Linked DNA regions of Homo sapiens: region 2 is linked to region 1. A link means that fine-mapping ties the variant in region 1 to the expression of a gene that starts in the linked region. Tissue or cell type: aorta. Region 1 holds a variant in brackets; the other region holds the start of a gene. All regions are shown on one strand. Distances are between the middles of the regions.

Region 1 (8,054 bases):
TCACTTGAGGTCAGGAGTTGGAGACCAACCTGGCCAACATGGTGAAATCCAATCAATACTAAAAATACAAAAATTAGTTGGACATGGTGGCGCACAACTGTAATCCCAGCTACTCAGGAGGCTGAGGCAGGAGAATCACTTGAACCCAGGAGGCAGAAGTTGCAGTGAGCCAAGATGGTGCCACTGCACTCCAGCCTGGGCGACAGAGCAAGACTCCATCTCAACAACAACAACAACAACAACAACAACAACCGATTTGAATAACTAGTGTGATGTCATATTCATGACTGGAAAGACTACAAATGACAATTTATCCCAAAGTAATCTTCAACAAAATTCCAATGAAATATCTGAAATATCAAAATAATGTTTTTTAGAATTTGGGAAGTCTACAGTTCACATAAAACAATCAGGCCATCCATGAGAAATTAGAGAAAGAGTAATTTTTTGCCCTTTCAGATACTAAAACATACAACACAACCAATAAATATATAGGAGTGCTGTGGCAGTCAGCTACAACTTAATGGAACAAAACCAAAAAATTCAAAAATGAAACCAAGTATATAAATACTTAACATATGAAAAAGGCAACACTTAAAATCAATAGTAAAAGGATATTTTATTTAACCAGTGGAGTTGAAAAAACTGGCTAACCATGTGGAAAAGAATAGTTTAGAACAAAATTAACATAACTAACCAAAAATTATGAAAAAAAGTTCACTAACATATTAAATCAGAACAAGATAACTATTTTAAAACAAATATTAAAATAAATTGAAAAACATTTCAATAACATGTATCAGGAGGGAAAACAGGTTATATTACATTGTCAGGGGGAGGGTAAACTGGCTAATGATTTTGGGAAGGCAATTTGGGGGAATAAGGGTGCATTTTCCTTTGACACAGCAATGCCACGTCTGTGAATTAGCCTAAAACTTAATCAAAGATGTAAAAAAAAATTCTATTACAAGAATGTTCATTCTCAGGGGATTTTTGTAAATAATGGTAAATGATCAGAAATAACCTAGACGCCCAATGATAATGAGCTGAATAAATAAACTTCCAAATTGAACACTGACCTTTAAAAAGCCTGCTAGAGGATAGGCGCGGTGGCTCACGCCTGTAATCCATGTGCTTTGGGAGGCCAAGGCAGGCAAATCATCTGAGGTCAGAAGTTCGAGACCAGCCTGGCCAACATGGTGAAACCCCGTCTCTACTAAAAATACAAAAATTAGCCGGGCATGGTGGCAGGTGCCTGTAATCCCACCAACTCGGGAGGCTGAGAAAGGAGAATCACTTGAATCCAGGAGGCAAAGGTTGCAGTGAGCCAAGATTGCACCACTGCACCCCAGCCTGGGCGAAAGAGTGAGACTCCATCTCAAAAATAAAAAGCCTGCTAGAGGCCGGGCATGGTGGCTCACGCCTGTAATCCCTGCACTTTGGGAGGCCAAGAAGGGTGGATCACGAGGTCAAGAGATCAAGACCATCCTGGCCAACATGGTGAAACCCCGTCTCTACTAAAAATACAAAAATTAGCTGGGTGTGGTGGCACGCACCTGTAGTCCCAGCTACTCAGGAGGCTGAGGCAGGAGACCTGCTTGAACCCGGGAAGCCGAAGTTGCAGTGAGCTGAGATCATGCCACTGCACTCCAACCTGGTGACAGAGCGAGACTCTGTCTTAAAAAAAAAAAAAAAAGCCTGCTAGAATCCAGGCAGGTCTGCTGATCCTTGACCACCAAAAACAAGCATCCCTCACCACCAAAAACAAGCATGTTACACGGGATGTTTACATTATGCTGTTAATGGAAAAAAACATAGTAAATACTGGGTAAAGAAAACCATTAAGCCTACACACATACACACACACACGACTTGCCATTGTTATACTCTATCAAATCTACATGAACACTGTATCAGTGAACACTAAACCACTGTTCCTAGGGGAAATGCAGACGTAGGTTCCTTCTAGCCTAACATCTTCCTCAACTGATCAATACATAATTTTGTTTTATGTATGCTTCTGTTCAGACATCATCTTCAATATATATTGCTGATTCACTAACACTGAACTCACAGCTGACAGCACTGTAACTCATGACTGAAGGGAACTTATCTAACATGTACATTTTCTCCATAAGGCACATTACGGCCTTCTTGCATTTAAGGAATACTAGACTGCACTTTAACATTATGCTTGTGGGCCATTTTAAACAGTGAAATCACCAACAAAAAGCACAAAATGAAAACTTATAAAACATAGAGAACATCACAGCAACACTGACAGTAATTTCTTTCCAAAGGAGACATGCTGTTTTTTCCCTGACAATGAAGAGTTGTTCCTACCCACAGACCAATGAATCATCCAACAGTAATACTGGGATGGCCATAGGCACCCAAGAAAACAAGATATTCCACTGAAGAAGTATGTACCCTGTCGCTTGCTGTAATCATTTCTGTAGTCTATTCAACAGATTCCTTTAGAAGATACTTGGTTCTGACTCATCCTCCTTTAGCCACATGCACCTCCCTGTTCATAAATGGACAGTCAGCTGCTCAACTGTCAGATAATCTCTACAGTCATTCAATCTTGTTTGCCTCTGAATCATAACTGGGTTGCATGTATGTGTAAAAATAGCTTCTTCTATAGTGATTTAATGTAATTTACCGATCATCTTACAGTCCAAAAGAGAAATCATAAAATGAAAAACTAAAGAAAGTGTCTGGAGGCCGGGTGTGGTGGCTCACACCTGTAATCCCAGCACTTTGGGAGGCCGAGGCAGATGGATCACGAGGTCAGGAGATCGAGACCATCATGGCTAACACAGTGAAACCCCATCTCTACTAAAAAAATACAAAAAAATCAGCTGGGCGTGGTGGCGGGCACCTACTCAGTAGGCTGAGGCAGGAGAATGGCGTGAACCCGGGAGGCGGAGCTTGCAGTGAGCCGAGATGCGCCACTGCACTCCAGCCTGGGCGACAGAGCGAGACTCCGTCTCAAAAAAAAAAAAAAAAAAAAAAAAAAAGAAAGTGTCTGGAATTCAATAGATTTAATACACTGTGTGTGTGTGCGTATACACATATAAATACATATTCAATAAATGGATACTAAACTCAGACTTCTGTTAAGAATAAATTAGACCCTCCAAAAAGTCATAAAAATGTATTAACTTGCCACCAATATGCTCTCCACATAATTATTTTAATTTGGTTTCACTGTATTTTTCTTTTCTTACATGAAAAGCTGAGCCAAGATAAATTCTGACTTTCACCCTTCAGTTGCAGCCATTTCCTCTGAAGTGATGTAAAGCAGTAAAAATCTACCAGCTAGATTCTCAGATAAAATGTACCCGATAAACAAGAAGAGGATACTAACAAAAAAGGAACATTTGTAGCACACACAAAAAAGAGCTCTTGGTGAAACCCTGTCTCTACTAAAAAAAAAAAAAAAAATACAAAAAATTAGCCAGGCGTGGTGGTGGGCACCTCTAGTCCCAGCTACGCGTGGGAGGCTGAGGCAGGAGAATGGCGTGAACCCGGGAGGCGGAGCTTGCAGTGAGGCGAGATCGCACCACTGCACTCCAGCCTGGGCGACAGAGCGAGACTCCGTCTCAAAACAAACAAACAAACAAAAAGCTCTGTTGAAATATAGTAGAAATTAAGACCCAATATAAGACTCTGAAGATAAAGTAGAGGAAATCTTCTGGAAGGTAGACCAAAAAGACAAAAGAGACAGTAAGAAAATAAGGTAACAGGATCATTCCTGTGGGTCTAACATCCAAATAGTAGATGTTCCAGAAAAGAATAGAAAAAATATAAGAAAGGAAGTCATCAATTAATATAAGAAAATTTCCTTACGAAGGACACAGCTGCCATACTGTAAAGGGCTGGCAAGTACCCTGCACAAGGAATGACTGTGGACCGACACTAGGTTACATCATAGATAAATACCAAAACATGGAGACAAAGATTTTACAAACTTCCAAAGACGGGGAAATTGGTCACAAACAGATCAGGAAACACAATGACTTCAGAGATTTTCAACTGCAACATTTAAACCAAGACAATGAAACAAGGCCTTCTTAACGAAAATAATCTCTAACCTCAAACTCTAGAACAAGACAAACTTACAATAAAGTATCGTAGAATAAAGACACTTCAAATATGCAACAACTCTGTTATCCACAAAGAGACCGTAAACCAAGAAACAGGAAGACAGAAAAACTGAAAAAGAAACAAAAAGAAAAAAACAAAAAAGCCCCTCACAGCAGAGGATGAACACAGAAATCAGTATGAAAGCAGTGCGCTGGATATAGAGGACAATCAGTCTAGATTGAAGAGATGGACATTCTGAGGATGGTCATCACCAAGATCCTGAGGGCAAAATGCTCATATATAAGCCTTCCCCACTGCTGGGACCAGCTAAGGACACTCATTTGAGCTGACAAAGGTGATGTGCTTTGACTCACTCCTGTGAAAAGAAGGTAGCTCTGGAATGAGACATCAATTTTGACAAAAGAAATTAAAAAAAAAAAAAAAGGATAAAAGAAGGTAGGTCATGGTGAGCCTAGAAGCAGAAAATACCAGAGCAGCTAACTCCCTCTGACCATATTCCTCCACATCTCCGGCACACGGTGAGCAATGGTTTCAGTGTGCCAGATGCCCTAACTCCAGTGTGAGCCCTAGGTTTCCCATAATCCACTCATGACTGTGCTCACAAGCTTCCCCAGGGAGGCTCTAAAAATTCACAGGGAAGCTGAATCCGGACTTGACCCTAAGATTCTGTTCAGCTCATCTTCTAGGAGCTGCATCTGAAAGTGACATTAGAAGGCTGGGTGCGGTGGCTCACGCTTGTAATCCCAGCACTTTGGGAGGCCGA[A/G]GAGTGTGGATCACAAGGTCAGGAGATCGAGACCAGCCTGGCTAACACAGTGACACCCCATCTCTACTAAAAATACAAAAAATTAGCCAGGTGTGGTGGTGAGGGGGCCCGTAGTCCCAGCTACTCGGGAGGCTGAGGCAGGAGAATGGCGTGAACCCAGGAGGCGGAGCTTGCAGTGAGCCGAGATCGCACCACTGCACTCCAACCTGGGTGACAGAGCAAGACTCCTCTCACCAAAAAAAAAAAAAAAAAAAAAGAGAGAAAGTGACATTAGAGTCCGTTGTTTACACTGCCCTGAAGTGTGTGCTTCCTAGTTTCATTTTTTTTAAAAACTAAACAATGCGTTATTTAGAGATATATGCACAGGAAATAAAATGACAAAGAAAAGTAAGGGAACAAATACATCAATCAGGATAGTGATTATTTTGTGGGGGGAGACGGGTTGAGGAAAAGAACTGTAAAGTTTTCTTTCTCTTTTTTTCTTTTTTTTTTTTTTGAGATAGCATCTTGCTCTGTGGTATGAACACGGCTCACTGCAGCCTTGATTTCCAGGACTCATTTTGAGATAGCATCTTGCTCTGTGGTATGAACACAGCTCACTGCAACCTTGATTTCCAGGACTCAAGGGATCCTCCTGCCTCAGCCTCCCAAGTAGCTGGGACTACAGGCCTGTATCACGACACCTGGCTAATTATTTTATTTTTTTGTAGAGATGGGGTCTCACTTTGTTGCCCGGGCTGGTCTGTAACTCCTGGGCTCAAGTAATCCTCCCTCCTTAACCTCTGAAAGTGCTGCAATTATAGGTGTGAGCCACCATACCTGGCCAACTGTGCAGGCAGTACTGTTCAACAGAAATATATAATGTGAATCACAAATGCAAGCCACATATGTAACTGTAAATTGTCTAGCAGGCATTTTTTTTTTTTTAAGAGACAGGGTCTCCCTCCTTCACCCAGGTTGGATTGCAGTGGCACCATCACAGCTCACTACAGCCTTGAACTCCTGGGCTCAAGCAAACCTCCCACTTCAGCCTCTCCAGGAGCTAGGACTACAGGCACACCCCACTATGCCCAGTCACTTAAAAAATGTTTTTATTTTTTAAGGATGGGGTCTCACTATGTTGACCAGGCTGGTCTCGGACTCCTGGCTTCATGCAATCTTCCCACCTTGGCCTCCCAAAGTGCTAGGATTACAGGCATGAGTAACTGCACTCGGCCTAGTAGGTATTTTTTAAAAAGTAAAAAGAGGTGAAATTAATTTTAATAATGTTACTTAACTCAAAACATCTAAAATTTTCAACATGGTATCAAGCAAGCAATATCTTGGGTCAGGCACAGTGGCTCACGCCTGCAATCCCAGCACTGCGGGAGGCTGAGGCAGGTGGATCACTTGAGCTCACAAGTTCGAGACCAGCCTGGGCAACATGGGAGGAGGGCTTGAGCCTGGGAGACAGAGGTTGCAGAGAGCTGAGATCGTGTCACGGCACTCCAGCTTGGGTGACAGAGCCAGAACTTGTCTCAAAATATATATATATATTCCTATTGCTATATATATGTATGCGTGTGTGTGTGTGTGTGTGTGTGTGTGTGTGTATACACATATATATATATGCCTGTAATCCCAGCTACTCAGGAGGCTGAGGCAGGAGAATAGCTTAAAACCCAGAAGGTGGAGGTTGCAGTGAGCCAAGATCACGCCACTGCGCTCCAGCCTGGGCAACAGAGCGAGACTCCAACTCAGAAAAAAAAAAACACAAAAAAAACACCAAAATCATATAATACATTTAACGTAGACTTGAAATAAGGCTCTCAGCTTAAACATTTTACCTATATATGTTGGTCATTTAGACATTTCTCACGTTTTACATAAACGTGGCAGGTTATGCTATTCATGATGACACTTAGAAAACTAATTTAGTTAAGTTGATAGAAATACATACAAAAACACACTGTGAAACAAACCCAGAAAAAATAATGAGTATAAAACTGGATCCATATATGTATGTGTGTGTGTACATATATATATATAGCAATATATTACATTATTTTGGATATATATTTTGGATATATATACATATATTTGGATCCATATATATATTACATTTTGGATCCATATAAATACATTACATTATTTTTGTTTTTCATACCAGGTTTCAAAATCTGGTTTGTGTTTTTTCACACATCACATGTGAATTCACACTAGCGACATTATAAGTGTTCAACAGCCACATGTGGATTGTATAATAGCTACCATACGGAACATCAGTCCTACTATACCTATGTTCCTTTTATTATTATTCCTAAAATGTACATGTTTTTATCTATTCTTTGTAAGACACATCTAACAAATGAAAAATAACTTAAAAGAATTCCTAAAAGGAAAATGCATCAAGTACAGTAGTCCCCGCTTAGCCACAGTTTTGCTCTCCATGATTTCAGTTACTCACAGTCAATCACGGTCCAAAAATATTATATGAAAAATTCCAGAAATAAACAATTCATAAGTTTTAAATTGCACTCCTTCTCTCCAGAGAGGTGAATCATCTCTTTGTCCAGCACATCCATGTTTTATAAGGAATGTGTCCATTAGTTACTTAGTGGCCATCCTGCTGCAGTATGGCAGTGCTTATGTTCAAATAACCTTAATTTTACATTGATTACTGTATATTGTTATTAGTGTTCCACTTTATTTTTTTAAACTTTTAGTTTTTTGGAGACAGGGTTTTGCTCTATTGCCCAGGCTAGAGTGTCATGGCTCAATCATAGTTCACTGTAGGCTCAAACTCCTAGGTTCAAGCAATTCTCCCACCTCAGCCTCCCAAATAGCTAGGACTACAGGTGCATGCCACCATACCCGGCTAATTTTTAAACTTTTTTGTACAGACAGGGTCTCATATTGCCCAGGCTGGTCTCAAACTCCTGGACTCAAGCAATCCTCCTGCCTTGGTCTCCCAAAACATTGAGATTATAGCTGTGAGCAGCCTTGCCCGGCCACGTTCTACTTTATTATTAGTTAAGGTTGTTAATCTCTTACTGTGCCTAATTTATAAACTAAACTTTATCATACGTATATATGTATATCTGTATAGGAAAAAAACAGCACATATATAGGATTTGGTACTATCAACAGTACAGGAATCCCTGAAAGTCTTAGAACGTTATATATACATATATATGTG
Region 2 (8,054 bases), 170 kb before region 1:
CATGGGCTTGGCATTTCTGCAGGGCAGTCCCCAGACACTGGGGCCTCCCCTAGATGACTGAGGGGTCAAGACCAATGCCTCAGGCCTCAGGCCTGCATTGAGGGGGCCATGTCAGGCTCTGGCTACATCCTCAGAAGCTACTGACCATGATGCCCACGGAGGAAGAGCGGCAGAAGATTGAGGAAGCCCAGCTGGCCAACCCTGACATACCCCTGGGCCCAGCCGAGAACTTCCTGATGACTCTTGCCTCCATTGGCGGCCTCGCTGCTCGTCTACAACTCTGGGCCTTCAAGCTGGACTATGACAGCATGGAGCGGGTACCTGGGTCTTGGAGTGGGACAGTCAGTAGGGACAGGTAAGCATCATGACCATGTAGTCTGAGAGTCCCTGGTCTCCCATACCAGGAAATTGCTGAGCCACTGTTTGACCTGAAAGTGGGTATGGAACAGCTGGTACAGAATGCCACCTTCCGCTGCATCCTGGCTACCCTCCTAGCGGTGGGCAACTTCCTCAATGGCTCCCAGGTGAGTGAGAGTACATGGGGACTAGGGGGAGTCAGGGTTCTGGAGCCAACCAGGCCCAGGCTCAGAAAGGGTCCTTTCAGAGCAGCGGCTTTGAGCTGAGCTACCTGGAGAAGGTGTCAGAGGTGAAGGACACGGTGCGTCGACAGTCACTGCTACACCATCTCTGCTCCCTAGTGCTCCAGACCCGGCCTGAGTCCTCTGACCTCTATTCAGAAATCCCTGCCCTGACCCGCTGTGCCAAGGTTAGCACCTGCCAGAATCAACCAAGGCCGGACAAGGCATGAGGAGCGCTGCTTCCTGGGCCTGGCTCCTCCCCCTTCTCCCCATTTGGGCTGCTGTGCCAGGGCTTGCTCCAGCCACCTGGGTGTGAGCTATGCCCTCTGCCAGAAATGCTCTTTCCTCTATTGGCCTGGCCACACCTACTCAGTCTTTGGGTCTGTTTAACTGCCACTTCCCCCAGTAAACCTTCTGCTCCCCATTCACATCAGATGGACTTGTGTCTCTTGCACTAGTCTATGAGATTTGGATGTCTGTGTCCTTAGGGCCCAAGCTGGCCACTCTGGCCCAGAAGCAGCCTCGGGCCATGTCTTGTCTACAGGGTGTGGGGGGACAGTATGTGCACCCCCTTGCTTTCTCAGGTGGACTTTGAACAGCTGACTGAGAACCTGGGGCAGCTGGAGCGCCGGAGCCGGGCAGCCGAGGAGAGCCTGCGGAGCTTGGCCAAGCATGAGCTGGCCCCAGCCCTGCGTGCCCGCCTCACCCACTTCCTGGACCAGTGTGCCCGCCGTGTTGCCATGCTAAGGATAGTGCACCGCCGTGTCTGCAATAGGTAGGGGCATGGACCCAAGAGAGGCAGGACGGCCACCACCCTCCCTCAGACAATAAGCAGGACTTACTGTCCCTCCCTACTCTGACCTGCCTAGGTTCCATGCCTTCCTGCTCTACCTGGGCTACACCCCGCAGGCGGCCCGTGAAGTGCGCATCATGCAGTTCTGCCACACGCTGCGGGAATTTGCGCTTGAGTATCGGACTTGCCGGGAACGAGTGCTACAGCAGCAGCAGAAGCAGGCCACATACCGTGAGCGCAACAAGACCCGGGGACGCATGATCACCGAGGTGGGTGCCCTTCCAGGTCTTAGTCTTGACTGCCACCTCCTTGGTTTCCTTCGCTCCTCCCAGCTCACCCTTCTTCTTTCTCCAGACAGAGAAGTTCTCAGGTGTGGCTGGGGAAGCCCCCAGCAACCCCTCTGTCCCAGTAGCAGTGAGCAGCGGGCCAGGCCGGGGAGATGCTGACAGTCATGCTAGTATGAAGAGTCTGCTGACCAGCAGGCCTGAGGACACCACACACAATCGCCGCAGCAGAGGTGAGGCCCATAGCAGCTGTGGGGAATGGGCTCCAGTGCCACCTTGGCCTGACTTTGCTATCTGGCCTTCCTCAGGCATGGTCCAGAGCAGCTCCCCAATCATGCCCACAGTGGGGCCCTCCACTGCATCCCCAGAAGAACCCCCAGGCTCCAGTTTACCCAGTGATACATCAGATGAGATCATGGACCTTCTGGTGCAGTCAGTGACCAAGAGCAGTCCTCGTGCCTTAGCTGCTAGGGAACGCAAGCGTTCCCGCGGCAACCGCAAGTCTTGTAAGTAACCCCCCACAATCCCACTGCCCACCTGAACCCCATCAACCCCCTCCAACCCTGCTCTGTCCCTGCAGTGAGAAGGACGTTGAAGAGTGGGCTCGGAGATGACCTGGTGCAGGCACTGGGACTAAGCAAGGGTCCTGGCCTGGAGGTGTGAAGGTGCTGTATCCCGGAAATCTATCTGGACCCTGGACTGCAGTGCAGGAGATGACAGAGTGAGGAGGGCCCAGAGCAGAATTCTGGCCCCAGAACTCTGTGCCCAGGAGCCATGCCTTGAGCAGTATTAGCCGTGTGTGTATGCATGTGAGTGTGTGTGTATGTGTGTGTGTGCATGCATATGCATGTGCATGTGTGTGAGCTCCTTGAACGCACGGAGCAAAATAAAATTTTCTTAGCTAATCCAACAGGTTTCTCTTCTTTCAGGGTCCCCACCAGGCTGGGTTTGTAGCAGGAGGGAAATCCCATAGGACCAGCTTTTCCTGCCTCATCCCTCATCACCCACACAGCCATCAGCCACATTCTAAGCCATTTATTCAACGACCCTATAGAGTATAAGTATACCCAATACCTCAGACTGCTTTTGGCCCCTGGACTAGACCCTCATTGCTCCAGGCATGAGGGGCTGTGCACCCTGACAGAGCCACCCAGGGCCAGTGGCCTGTGGCCACAATGTCAATGGCTATAACCGCTTCATCTGCCGCCGCTCCTGTCGGCGCTGCCGTTTCTCATTGTGCTCTGGTGCTGGGGTGCCACTGTCTGCAGTGAACCAGGGGCCCAGCACATTCACCCACAGGAGGTAAAGGGCCCGGCCTGGAGCCTACAAGAGAAACGGTAACTTGAAGCAAGATGCAGGGAATAAAAGATGGGGAGGGTTAGATGCCCCTTCTTGGGAGCGCCCCCAGCCCACATACCAGAAGCCAGAAGGACCAGACATAGAGAGAGAAGCAGCTGAGCACCTGCACGATGGCTGTCAGTAGGATCACATCCTTAAGGTGCCTGTGGATAGAAATAAAGCTGGAAAGACAGCATATGGGCCCTTCCACCCTTTTCAAGTTGCAACTCCCTTCCACCCTTTTCAAGTTACAAGTAGCTGTGCTTCTTGGGCTATCTGGGCCCCAGCCCTGGGGCCGCTCACCTGGGCTGGCGGTGGGGGACACTCACTCTGCCATGCCCTGCTCCATGTTGAGGTCCATGCCACCATCCATCAGGGCCCCATCCTCAGAGAACGCTGCTCGTGCCATCGAGCTCATAGAGTGGTAGCTGGCCCCATACACTGCCAGACTAAAGCCCAGGGCCAACTGCAGAGCAAGAATGAGGGTATCAAAGGCCAGCCACTGACCCTACGCACTCATCCACCTCCCAGGATGGAGATACTTACCCAGGCCCAAAATGAGGCAGATGAGTAAAAGAAGACCAACGTCACAAGGCAGTAAATGGCCTGCAAGCAATCACAGGATCAGGTTGGGGTCAGAAGTTACCTCCAAACCATGGGTCTCCCTCAACTCTGACCAAGAATTAGGCCAGGCTGTGGGAGGAGCAAGGTTGTTCTTACAGGGTTGAAGAAAGGGCCCTGCTCCCTGAATCCCAAATACCCACTCTCCTCTGACACCCAACTCAGCCCAGGAAAGAAGCCTTTGTGTACTTGGAGGTAGGAAGAGCTCTCAAATTCAGCTACGACTCACGCCTTCATTTTCTTTGTGTTTTACTAGTTAGCACTTTCTCTGTGCCCAGATCTCTCATTTCTTTTTGACTGGAGCTCTCTTCTAGAGCTTTTTCGGGTACCACTCCTCGTCACCAAGCAGGGCTGAGGACTAGGGAACTGACTATAAGTGGGCATAGAAGCAAGGAGGTAGGCACTTACATTGGCCCCCAGTATGATCCGCAGGTAGAACTTCAGAGTCTCTCTGTTCTCTTCAAATATCTGCTTCTTCCCTCTCGTGCCCACTTTGCCCTTGGGCTGCAGAGGAATGATGAGATGCCGTCAGGAGGCCACGGTCCTCCTCATTCTCCCCACCAGCCTGGTGAGCTATAGAGCTCCATCCGCAACTCAGCCAGGTCCCCGTAGTGCAGAAACCTAGCAAAATCCCTGGGATGTCCACCCATCCTCCAGTCCATTCTGCCTAGGGCTGACGCCATCTCTCCAGCACCCGCAGCTAGGATCAATCGCCTCTTGCTCGCCCTGGAACAATTCAATCCTAAGCTAATACCGCCTCTGGATCCCGTGGTAGTCTGGCTTTAGGCTAACGACTCTTCCAAGGGTACTCCTGAGCGGAGTTGAATGGTGCCTCTCTCAGGCCTCCGCTGGCGTAGTCCCGATCTGGGTTAACCCCCACCTCAGGTCACTTAGATCTCTGGCCTGCCCTGGTACTGATGCCCACCCCGCTCTGGCACTAGTCCTGGTATGGTCCTGCGCCGCCATCCCCCCAGCCCAGCTCTAGCACGGTCTGGCCAGGGATGGCGCCCCGCTCTGGCCCACCCCATATCCCTTAATGTTCTTTCTCAGTTTTCACTCTCACAGCCCCTGGAGAGCTTTGCTGGTGCGGACCCCGCCCTATCCATCCTCCTTACCGCCATGGTGCGAGGCAAATACCCAGCCCGGGAAACACGGGAGAGCGACCGAAACCGCAATCACTAAGCACCACATCGGCAGCTCATGCACTTCCGGCGCAGACCGAAGTCGTCAGCTTTTGCGACGGAAATAGGTCTCACTTCCTTCCCAAGCCCCGCCCCAAAGAGGCGAGACTACATTTCCCAGAAAGCCTTGCGCAGTGGGGGCGGAGGCGGCAGGGATGCGATGGCGGAGTCGCTGCCCCTGGAGGTGAGAGGAAGCCGCCCTCAGGCCTAGCTCTGGACAGGCCCCGCCCTCGCGGTCCTGAGCTTTGGGGAGGGGCTGTCAGATAGCTAGCCCGGCCCCTCCAGCCTGGCGGAAACGACCCGCCCTCCCGATCCCGGGACCTTCTAGCTCTGGGTAACGGTTCCTCCTTTGGGCCACTCTGTCCCTTTAGCTTGGGGGACCGTCCTCCCCTTCCCTATCGGCCCCAGAAGATAGCTGCCCTGTCATCTCCGCGAGAACAGGCCCTCTGCCCATCCCCTTCCCTTGAAGTGGCTGTCTCCTCCCCGCTCAGTTCTGGAAGATGTCCGCTCCATCTCATCGTCCCGAAGGGTAACTGATCTTATCCCCATTGGTCCCTTGGGATGATCTCTCCATTTCCTACAGAGACGGCCGCCCCTTCTCCCTGGCAGTGGGAAACAGACTGCTCCCTCCCCATCAACTGCAATGATCTCTGAGTTCCTTTAACAAGGATAGGCCTGTTCCCCATTCCTAGGCCCCTAGTGATGGCCGCCCTTACCTCTTTCACTCCGTGGGATGTTTGCTCCTTCCCCTTAGCCAGGGGCAAGACCACTCTGCCCCATCTGCCAGGGAGATAACAGGTTTTGTCTTCAGTGGCCTGTTGGAATGGCTTCTCCATCTCTTTTGTCCTGAGGGTTGGCAGCCCCCTCTCTCTGCCCATGGGAAACAGGCCACCCTTTCCCATCGGTCCTGGAATGATGCTCCTGTCCTTAGCAAAAATAGGCCTGTTCCCACCCCTATTGAGCTTGCAGTGCTATCCCTTTCCCCCTTAGCTTTAGGGGCTATCTATTTCCATCCCCATAGACCCCATGAGTGACCAATCATTATCTCCAGTAGCCCCCTTGAGATGGGACTCATGGGATGGTCACTCCATCCTCATCACTGCCTCCTCTTGTCCCTCTAGAAAGGCCACCCTCTTCTTAGGTCAATGAATTGTGTCCCTTCCCGACTCACCCCAAGGGATGACAGGTTTGTTCCCCTCTCCCTTTGCTCTTGGGCTGGCTGCTTAGCCCCAGAAGACAGGATGGCCACTGTCTTAACTCAGCTCAAACAGGCTTCCGTGCCTCCCTGGAGGGATTGGGACTTGGTCAGTCCCAGTCCCCATCAATACTGTCTTCCCTATGCCTCCCTTCCTGGCCCAGAAGTCTATTCTGCCAGTCATTGTCCTCTCAGTAATGACTGCTTTATTTCCCCGACCCCTTCCCTGAGCATACTCTTGGTGAAAATAGAGGTAGAGGACTGGACTGTCCAACCTTAATTTAATCCAGTAAGCACTGGCTGAGCACTGTGCCTGCGTGCTTGGCATCTGAGAAAGGAAGGAGAGATCACAATGGGTTGGTGAAGTTAAGCTTCAAGAAGGGGATCCCAGGGAAAAGGCCCGCATAGGCAAAAGGAAATAGACATGCTGTGTGCGTAGGGCAATGGGGAGACTGGACTGGGGAAGTTTGGGGACCAGCGAGTCCAATCAGGCACAGAGGCCTGGCAGTGCTGATCCAGGAGTGGAGACTGTCCTGAGAGTACTGTGAACCCTGAAGTTTTACAGCAGGGGTGAGCTGAAACTGAAAACTGTTTTATAGGAAAAATTAACCTTGTGACAGTGTGCATAATGTATTAGCAAGGATGAACTTGGAGGCAAAGAGTTCAGGTGGGAGATTGTGGAAGGAATCCAGGTTTGGGGTGGTAGAAATCTGAGCTACTGAGGTGGGGAAGTTGCAGAGGTAGAAATTTTAGTAACAGCAATCCAGCAACCATTTATGGAACATCTAGTTGTCACACACACACTATATATATGTAAAATTTAATCCCCATGAGGCTATGATCTAGATTTTTTTAAAGTATCCCTATTTTATAGATATGGAAACTGAAACTCCCAGAGGTCAAGTACCTTGTTTAAGGTCACACATCAGTATATGTGGAAGTAGTGGAGCTGGAATTTGAATGAGTTTAGGTTAGCCTGGCCTAAAGCCTGTGCATTACACCTGTATCTGGGAGGAAGGGACAGAATGGTTTGAATAGTTGAAAGTGTTATCAGGTAGATGCACTGTTGGCATTGAAAGGGGAATTTGGGAGGAGAGGCTGTTTTGGGCTGAGGGTAGAACATGAGTTTTGGTTGAGATTAAAGTGATGGCTAAACATTTGCATGGACAGTTGGCAATATGGACTAGCACTTGGATAATAGGACAATATGGGAATATTGAATTGTTGGTTATTCCTGTGTTGGTAAACAGAAAACCAAAAGACCCAGGTCTGAGCCCTGGGAGCCACAGAAGAATCCAAAAACGAGACAATTGGGATGCAGGGAGGAAGATTCCAGAAGAAAAGAAGAGTTAATATCAAATCATTCTAGGCCTCACTGGTAACCCCTTCCCCAGTCCCATTTAGGACCTCTAACCTCACCACCCCCTAGGTGGGGGGAAGGGCCTGAGCCTCCCAGGCTAGGTCTTGCTGGGAGCGCATCTTAACAACCAGTGGAGAGGGCAAGGTGGCAGTGAAGAAGACAGAAAAACAGCAGGGTCCCAGAGCCTGAGCCATGAGGGCAGGAGGACCAAGCATGACTTCCTGAGGACCAGAGTGAGCACACCTGGCCTGCTGTGCTCTAGGTCCTATGCAAGACACTTGGCTGTGTTCTTTAATTCTCACAATAATCCATTTAAATCTCACTACAATTGCAATTTCACAGATAAGGAAAACAAAGTTCGAGAGGTCAGTTGGCAGAGTAGAGATTTGAACTAGGTTTATCTGGCCTCAATGCCCAGGCTTTTTCTACCCAGCTAGGCAGGAAGTTTGATTCTTATCAGTCAGTGCAAGCCTGCACCCAGCTCAGGAAAGGTTTGTTTACAGGAAAGATACCTGAAGCCTGGAGCGGGGAAGTGAATGCTTCGTGAAGCTTCACATCCAAGATAAAGTAGAAGCCAGGGCTCTGGTGCCCTCAGACCCATGGTGCTGTCAGCTGGAGTGGGTTCCAAAGACCTCCCACCTCTAACAGTCCCCAATGCCCTGTCTTTTTCCCTCAGATGCTCACATATATTCTGAGCTTCCTGC

What was found. PIP is the estimated chance that this variant, and not a neighbour inherited with it, causes the effect.
Region 2: TMEM208 starts here. The variant in region 1 is fine-mapped to the expression of TMEM208 in aorta (GTEx, PIP 0.93).

Annotation. Positions count from the first base shown.
Region 1 is chr16:67,050,327-67,058,380 of GRCh38, reverse strand. All of the region lies in intron 3 of CBFB (core-binding factor subunit beta), which reads right to left. Among named protein-coding and RNA genes, the nearest start is that of CBFB, 25 kb to the right of the region's middle. The variant A/G (reference allele first, on the strand shown) is at 4,877.
Region 2 is chr16:67,223,900-67,231,953 of GRCh38, reverse strand. It overlaps TMEM208 (transmembrane protein 208), which reads right to left and starts at 4,824. Exons shown (of 6, transcript NM_014187.4): 1 at 4,730-4,824; 2 at 4,023-4,118; 3 at 3,540-3,599; 4 at 3,323-3,459; 5 at 3,073-3,157; 6 at 2,676-2,978. The coding sequence starts at 4,735. The coding sequence ends at 2,841. FHOD1 (formin homology 2 domain containing 1) reads left to right here. Exons shown (of 22, transcript NM_013241.3): 15 at 135-317; 16 at 405-524; 17 at 605-766; 18 at 1,163-1,353; 19 at 1,448-1,640; 20 at 1,726-1,888; 21 at 1,964-2,161; 22 at 2,236-2,565. The coding sequence ends at 2,318. It also overlaps the pseudogene FBXL9P. RefSeq lists enhancers at 1-96, 97-598, 4,672-5,021.